Linked DNA regions of Homo sapiens: region 1 is linked to region 2. The links come from fine-mapping of genetic effects on gene expression. A gene starts in region 2. The other region holds a variant in brackets. All regions are shown on one strand. Distances are between the middles of the regions.

Region 1 (4,394 bases), 85 kb after region 2:
CTCGCCAGAGGTGGCCAGTGGTGCGAGCCTCAGGGTCAGAATCGTGCTCATCTTAGTTCCAAATCTAGAGCCAGCCTCGTGAACTGGCCATGAGACCCCAGGGTGTGTCAAATTTCCTTGTGTGCAAAATCTGTTTTCCACCTACCAGAATGAATGTGCTAACTTGGTATTCTAACATATATTGAAACTAAATAGTGCTTCCCAGACACTCGTTGACCCCAGAGTATGTACTGACCAGGAATTTTGTTGTCCACATGTATGTTTCATCTAACACCCTCCTCAGACACATTCCTCCCTTAGACCCATCAGCATATTCCTGGCCCTGTTGCCATTTATCCTAAAGATCTAATAGAAAGCTCAGATCTCAAGAGAACAGGTGTGGTTGGCCAGGCGTGGTAGCTCACGCCTGTAATCCCAGCACTGTGAGAGCCGAGATGAGCGGATCATCTGAGGTAAGGAGTTTGAGACCAGCCTGGCCAACATGGTGAAACCCCGTCTCTACTAAAAATACAAAAAAAATTAGCTGGGCCTGGTGGTGCGTGCCTGTATAATCGCAGCTACTTGGGAGGCTGAGGCAGGAGAATCGCTTGAACCCAGGAGGCGGAGGTTGCAGTGACCCGAGATCACGCCATTGCACTGCAGCCTGGGCAGCAAGAGTAAAACTCCATCTCAAAAAAAAAAAAAAAAGAAAGAAAACAAGTGTGGCCTATATTGGTGTCCTGAGTCTTAGCAGCTTACCATAGGAGTCAGAGAACACGGGTTCTATTTGGAATCAAACTGGTCTATTGGTTCAAACACACCTGGACTCAGGAACCAACTCTACTGCAAACCGAGTGATTTGAGATAAGTTCCAGCTTCTCTCTGTGCCTCATTTTTTTCACCTGTAAAATAGGGATAAGAGTACCTGCCTCATAGGGCTATTATGCAGATTACAGACACAACAGAGATAAAGGCTAGTGCCTGGCAGATAACAAGGGCTGGGATGATCCACGTCTACATTGAGCTCCCCAACAGGAGGAGTTTCGTAATGAACTAGGAGGACTTTGCGTCTTCTGCACAGAACTGCATGTCCGCAAACTTATTTACATGTTCTATAGGGAGAGAGTAATAACAACAACTCACATTTCATAGTGTTTTATTTCTTGCAACATGTTTTCCCAAACATCACTTCATTGTTCTCTAAAGACAGTTTAGTGTAGTGGAAGGAACCTGGGTTGGGATATGCAGCCCTAGATTTGAGTCCCAGTTTAGCAACCACTGGCTTTGAGATCTTATGTGCACAGCTCGACCTCCAAGCTCAATATCTTTATCTACTCATTCCTAAAATTTGGATAGTTATACCAAACTTACAGTGTTGTGATGAGGATTAAATGGCATACAGCTGATACTACATAAATAACTACCAGGATTATGATTAACATCATCTAAAGTGGGCATTATTATCTCTGTTTTACAGATATGGAAATGGAGGCACAGAGGATGACTGCTATCTTGTCTGAGGTCCCACAGCTTGTGGCGAGTGTAGCTGAGATTCTAACCAATCAAGAAGGGGTGGAAGGAGGGCAGAGCAGAGGGAGAATTTTCTTTTTTTTTTTTTTTTTTGAGACAGAGTCTCACTCTGTTGCCTAGGCTGGAGTGCAGTGGCGCGATTTCGGCTCACCGCAACTTCCGCCTCCTGGGTTCAAGCGATTCTCCTGCCTCAGCCTCCCAAGTAGCTGGGATTACAGGCATGTGCCACCATGCCCAGCTAATTTTTTGTATTTTTAGTACAGATGGGATTTCACAGTGTTAGCCAGGATGGTCTCAATCTCCTAACCTCGTGATCCGCCTGCCTTGGCCTCCCAAAGTGCTGGGATTACACCGCGCCTGGCCAAGAATATTTTTATATACAAACGAGATGGAGAATGAGGCCTTGGGCTGAGAGAAAAGGAAAGCTGGGAGCCCTTCCTATTCACCGCTGTGATAATAGAATAAGAATTTCAGATGACAGTCTAAAAAAGTATTTCTTAGCCCTGCCTTCCATCCACAGGGGCAGAGAAGGACTTTATTCCTACGTAGAGAACGCCTGGCCACGGATAGGATGGCCTCTTCCCTCCAAAGCAGGCCATGGTCAAAGAGCAGGAGAGTCATCTCTTGCTCAGATTTCAGGTATCTTATCCAGAAACGCAGGGCATTTTCCCTG[T/C]TCTGTCCTCCATGCCCCTCTTCCCCATGCACTGCGCTCATGCCACTAATAATGCAGCGTCAACACAGTTCCACAGTACGGGGATTTCCTTGACAGCGGAAGCCACTGACTGCACCCCAACGTATACTGATGTCATCAGCGAGACCCTGTGCAGCATGAAGAAGCGGAAAGACAACCTCAATCAGTTGTACCAGCATCATTGGACTGAATGGAATTATTTTGACAAGCATCTAAAGGAGCTGCAAGACAACTTCTCCAGGTATGGAAGGGGCTTTGGGGAATGCCGTTGTTCCGCACTTATCTTTTGCAGCACACGATCATCATCATTTTTAAATGGGTTGGTGGGGCAGGGGGGTTTCCTGTAACCATCATAAGCATAATCAGCTTTCTTGTGGTCAGATTATAAACTCCTAATAACAGAGACCAGAGCTTTTTTTGTTGTTATTTTTTTTTTCTAACTACAAAAACATTATGTGTTCAATGAAAGCAAACAAAGGACCCGGAAACCACATAAAAGTACCAAGAGATACACATTGCCAACATTTTCCTATAAATCCTTCCAGTCTTTTTTTTCTGGGCCCATATATCCGTATCACTAAATAAAGTAGTGTAGAGTCATACTGTTGGTCTGTTTTTTAGACCTATTTTTTCCCACTAGCAGCATATTATGGACATTTTCCTCTGTCTTCTGCCTTTTTCAGAAATTTTATTTTACTTAGAAAAACCTTTCAGAAAGTTGATAGTACACTGAACTGTCCATCAGGATAGTACACTGAACTGTCCATCAGGATAGTACACTGAACTGTCCATCAGGCATTTGCCAAGTATTCACATTTTGCCCCATTTGCTTTCTCTCTCTAATAGCTAATCCAAATTCAGATTTCCCCAATTGTCCCCAAAATGTATTTTAATTTTTAGAGACAGGGTCCCACTCAGTCACCCGGGCTGCAGTGCAGCAGCTCAATTACAGCCTGCTGCAGCCTCAAACTCCTGGGTTCAAGTGATCCTCCTTCCTTAGCCTCCTCTGGAGTGCTGGGATTACAGACACGAGCCACTGTGCCTAACTCAGTGTGTCTTTGGCTTTACCTGCTGCTCCAGGATCCAATCAAGAATCACAAATTATATTTTGTTTTTTGTTTTTTGAGCCAGAGTCTCACTCTGTTGCCTAGGCTGGAGTGCAGTGGTGTGATCTTGGCTCACTGCAGCCTCTGCCTCCTGGGCTCAAGCAATCCTCCCGCCTCAGCCTCCCGAGTAGCTGGGACTATAGGTGTGCACCACCATGCCCGGCTAATTTTTGTGTTTTTAGTAGAGAAGGGGATTCACCATGTTGCCTGGTTGGTCTCAAACGCCTGACCTCAGGTGATCTGCCCCTGCCTCAGCCTCCCAAACTGTTGAGATTATAGGCGTGAGCCACCGTGCCTAGCCAGAAATTGTATTTAGTTTTATCTCTTTGGTGTCTTTGAATCTATAACAGTATCCTGCCCCCCCCCCCTTATTAGTTGTTTTTTTATGACATGGACTTTTTTGAAAAGCTCAAGCCACATTCTGGGTTTTTCTGATATTTCCTCAAAGTAGCATTGAATTTGTTCCAATATAGCCTATGTTTTCTGTACACTGGACATTAGGTCTATGCTAGAGGTTTGATTAGATTCAAGTTAAATCATTTTGCCCAAAATCTTTCACAGGTGATGTTGTATATTTATGTTGCATCCCATTAGGAGGCATATCATGTCAGGTTGCTCTGCTACTGGTGATGCTAAGTTTAAACACTTGGTTAAACTGGTATCTACCAGATCTCTGCATTGTAAGAGCACATGTTTGTCTTTCTAATTAGTCAGGAATAAATGATGTGATTCTCCCAGACTGTGTGAATGTGCTTCCCCAACATCTTTCACACAGTGGTTTTAGCACTCATCAGTGGTCTTTGCCTGATTAACTATTACATTTAAGGTTGCAAAATGGTGATTTTTCTACTTCTGCCATTCCTTCTACATTTATTAGCTGGCATTTTTCCATAAAGAATAGCTCACTTTCTTTTATCTTTCTTTGTCTCTCTCATGTCTTTCCTTCATGCCCCTATAACTCTTTCATGGAGCCACCCTGTCTGCAAGGGAAGCATGGGAAATATCTGGCCAAGGAGGGCGAGATTTCCACAACTGGACTGGACCTTCCATAGAACTGGGCACTTTGTTGTCCAAAACAAAATGGGATT
Region 2 (4,394 bases):
TCCCTCCCACTGGCATCGGTTCCTACCCCACAAGGGGAAAGTGAGATCTTCCAGTTAGGAGCAATTTGGTGAAAGGAGTCGGGTGACCAGAGCTGGAATAACCATCTGCATGGCTGCACTCTGGTATCAGAGTGGAGACAGAAGTAAGGATAGTGTGGAGGGCACAGTTGCAAGTTGAGTCTTTCCATGAGACAATGTGGGGATAATTCTCCCCACCAGGTTTAGATAGATCAATGTGCCAAAGTTAAAAAAAAAAAAAAATCCAAATTATCAGCAGTTCAAACACTTGAATTTCAAACTTATCCCACTGAGACAGCTCAAACAGCAATAACAATCTAGATCTTTCCAGGAAGTGAGGGTAGAGCCCCTGGCATTCCTCCTGAGAGCCCTGTGTTAGGTCCTAGAAGTATCTGGAAAAGAAAAGGAGGGGTGTAAGGCATCATACAGGCCTAGAGAGCTTATTCTCACCATACCTGATGGGGCCAACGTCTACAAAAATAATACTGAAAGCACAGTCAGACAACTAAAAGAGCATGGGCCCGATCCCAATCCCCACCCACACATTAACTGTTGGTCAACTCAGGTGCTACAACAGGAGCCCTCAACCCCTGGGCTGTGGACTGGCACTGGCCCATGGCCTGTTAGGAGCTGAGCCACACAGCAGTAGATCAGCAGCAGGCAAGTGAGAGAAGCTTCATCTGTGTTTACTGCTGTTCACCATCGCTCACATTACTGCCTGAGCTCCACCTCCTGTCAGATCAGCAGCAGTGTTAGATTCTCATAGGAACACAAACCCTTGTGAACAGTGCATGCGAGGGATCTAGGTTGCAAGCTCCTTATGAAAATCTAATGCCTGATGATCTGTCACTGTCTCCCATCACCCCCAGACAGGACTGTCTAGTTGCAGGAAAACAAGCTCAGGGCTCCCACTCATTCTACGTTATAGAATTATTTCATTATATATTACAATGTAATAATAGAAATTCAGTGCACAATAAATGTAATGCACTTGAATCATCCAGAACCCCCCCCCCGACCCCCGGCCACCCCCAACCCACCATCCATGTAAAAACTGTGTTCCATGAAACCAGTCCCTGGTGCCAAAAAGGTTGGGGACCAATGTGTTAGTGAAATAACTTGCGTCTCCACCACTGGCAAAAAGCCCAAGGTCTGGGCTCACCTGCCGCTGCTGCAGTTGCTGCTGTTGCTCCATTTGCAACTTCTCCGTCTCAAAGACAACGGGAAGAACCAGGATCATAAAGGAAGTGGTCCCAATCCACAAGGCTGCCCTGGAAAACCTGCAGAGGAAAATCCCCAGAGGGTGAGCATGAAGACATGCAAACAAAACAGGCAAGAACTACCCAGTAACCAAACCTCTCACATTACATACTCCAATGTTTTTGATAAACGTATTCTACCCGCTCCTTACACCATACTCCTACCAGAGACAGGAGGAGCAGCTATGGTAGCTGTATCATCTAGTGATGGCGGTTTAACATTCTCCTGAGTTCTTACAAAGCTCCTTATTCATTAATTATCTCCAACAATCTGAAATAACCCCCACAACTCCCCTGCCAGGTAAGAATCCCCATTTTACAGAAGAGGAAACTAAGAAAGGATAGGGTACAAGCCCAAGGTCACCCAACACGGGTCTGCTGCTTCCAAACCCCGTGTTCTTTCACAGCACCACGACCATCCCATGCACGTACCCAGTGCCTTTGCCCTCGTTCCTTACCTGTACATTTTCTGAGCCACAAAGAGGGAAAGATCAAAAGTGGCTCCGGCCGCGGACCGGACCCTCTCCGGAAACATCTCCGTCAGGCCCCATAGTCTCTCCGACAGGGTCTCATCTAGCTGTGGTGGAGTAGACGCGGGTCTTAGCCGAAAAAGCGACATCCATTCCTGGCCCCGCTGCGGCACTGGGAGCCGCCGAGCCCCACTGGAGCTAGGGCACCCAGGGCCCAGCAGGGCCCCTAACCCCGCCTCCCAAAGCAGCCGCTTCGCTCCGATCCCGTACCACGCGGATCCCACACCCACGAGCGGGCCCGCTTCCCGCTCTGCACCCCGCGAGGCCCTAGTACCTCCTCATCGTCGTCCTCCTCCAGCTCCTCCTCAGGCTTCTCCGCGTCGCCTTTCGGGAGCAATTCGTCCGGGGACTGGGGTTCCCCTGCACCGGCAGCAGCGACGGCGGCAGCCATGACTGTAGGGGACACCGGAAGCGGAAAGGAGGTGAGCGCAGCCGAACGGCGGACAGAGCTGCTTTTCCGGGAGCCGAGGCGCGAGCCGGGCGAGAGCGGCGCCCTCTAGCCCCGGGTCCTCCAGTGCCCGCAGCGGGTCCGGCAGCCCTGGCCTTATCCGGGCGTCGGGGCTTCGGCGGGCATTAGCAGCAGCTGAGAGGCCTGTGAGAGGTTCTGGGGCGCCACCGCAGTCATTCTGTTCAGCGGGTATAGGGTGAGCTCAGAAACTTGCTTGTTTTTCTTTTTTTCAAATGCGTTGTTTTAATTCCAGGTAATAGAGTTCAGGGGAGAACAAAGATCAAAGGGCTGACTCTGGCAAGATTCTGGGGGCTTGTTTTACTTTAAGTTCACAGCTAAGGTAGGAGTGGCTGAGTGAAAACAACTCAAGAGATGATGAGCCACTGTATTTTTTTTTTTAACAAAAGTTTATTCTTAAATTTACAACAGGCTCCAAGACAACACTTTATTCGAGCATAGGTGGCCAAAGATGTGGCCGGGAATAGAGATGTTTAAAGACGAATGGAGTCAGGCCCACCATCACCGCAGGCCCAAGGGACAGTGGAACAGGTCGCTTTTTGTAAGATTTTAGCTTTTTGTTGTTGTTGTTGTTGTTGGTTTTGTTTTGAGACGGAGTCTCGCTCTGTCGCCCAGACTGGATGGAGTGCAGTGGTGTGATCCCGGCTCACTGCAAGCTCCGCCTCCCAGGTTCAAGCGATTCTCCTGCCTCAGCATGCACCACCAACCACGCCCCGCTAATTTTTTGTATTTTTAGTAGAGACGGGGTTTCACCATTTGGCTAGGCTGGTTTTGAACTCCTGACCTCAAGTGATCTGCCCGCCTCGGCCTCCCAAAGTGCTGGCATTACAGGCATCAGCCACCGCACCTGGCCTATATATAGTTATATATTATATATAATATATATTTTATGTGTGTGTATATATATACGTATATATGTATATATATGTATATATGTGTATATATGTATATATGTGTATATAGGTATGTGTATATATGTATATATATACATACGTATACATATATACGTATTATGTATATATACATACACACATATACACACACACACACACACACACATACATATATATATAAAGACAGGGTTTCACTGTGTTGCCTAGGCTGGTCTTGAACTCCGAGACTCAAGCAATCCGACTGCCTCAGCCTCCCCAAGTCCTAGGATTACAGGCCTATGCCACTGCGCCCCACCTTGCCGGATTTCTTAATTCGGCCTGTGACCAGGGCCAAAGATTTATCTTCCTTGTCCATCTCCTTGGCCTGCTTCTTGGGCTGTTTTAGAGAGACACTGATCCAGTTTCGTTTTCCTGAGCCATGTTTTACTTGGTAGGAATAAATTAGTGTCTTGCAGGTCTTTTGGGAAAACATCAGGTAAATCTTCCCTATGTACCAAACAAAGGTAAGAGTTAACACCTAAATACCAGGTGCTCTGGTGCCTGTGGGTGTGGGTGGGTGCGGTGTGTCCTCCTTTAATCTTCACAGCAGCTCACTGGGGTAGGCACTGTTATCCCCATTTTAGAAATGAGGAAACTGAGGCATAGTACATAGATTTCTAGTAAGTAGGTGAGCTGGTCAGAAAGTATGCAGATATAAATTTTTGTTTGAGTTTGTGTGTTTGTTTTTGAGATGGAGTCTTGCTCTGTCGCCCAGGCTGGAGTGCAGTGGCATGATCTCAGCTCACTGCAACCTCCTGGGCTCAAGCGATTCTCCCGCCTCAGCCTCCCAAGTAGCTGGGACTACAGGTGTGTGCCACCATGCCTGGCTAACTTTTTGTATTTTTAGTAGAGATGGGATTTCACCATGTCGGCCAGGCTGGTCTAAAACTCGTGACCTCAGGTGATCCACCCGCCTTGGCTTCCCAAAGTGCTGGGATTACAGGTATGAGCCACTGCTCCCAGCCTCTATCAGATGCTTTCATAATAGTACAGTAAATGGAAATGTCCTTGTCCCACACCCTCCCCAGCATTAGGTGTTATCCATCTTTTTACTTTTTGCCTATATGATGGATGTAAGTGCTTCTTTTTAAAATGTGCCCCATGTTATTAAACAGGGTAATTTGATAAACACCTTTAGCCAACTGAACCTGGAATCAGAGACTCCCAGGATGGGAGAGTCCAAATCCTT

What was found.
Region 1: its variant is fine-mapped to the expression of TOMM22 in whole blood (INTERVAL, PIP above 0.99).

The regions. Positions count from the first base shown.
Region 1 is chr22:38,595,251-38,599,644 of GRCh38, reverse strand. It overlaps FAM227A (family with sequence similarity 227 member A), which reads left to right. Exons shown (of 17, transcript NM_001013647.2): 15 at 2,289-2,441. Among named protein-coding and RNA genes, the nearest start is that of DMC1, 27 kb to the right of the region's middle. RefSeq lists a silencer at 894-1,094. The variant T/C (reference allele first, on the strand shown) is at 2,183.
Region 2 is chr22:38,679,783-38,684,176 of GRCh38, reverse strand. TOMM22 (translocase of outer mitochondrial membrane 22) reads right to left here and starts at 2,220. Exons shown (of 4, transcript NM_020243.5): 1 at 2,082-2,220; 2 at 1,736-1,854; 3 at 1,181-1,298; 4 at 1-410. The coding sequence starts at 2,198. The coding sequence ends at 336. TOMM22-DT (TOMM22 divergent transcript) reads left to right here and starts at 2,321. Exons shown (of 2, transcript XR_007068097.1): 1 at 2,321-2,451. RefSeq lists silencers at 1,877-1,926, 2,317-2,386 and enhancers at 2,117-2,186, 1,233-2,432.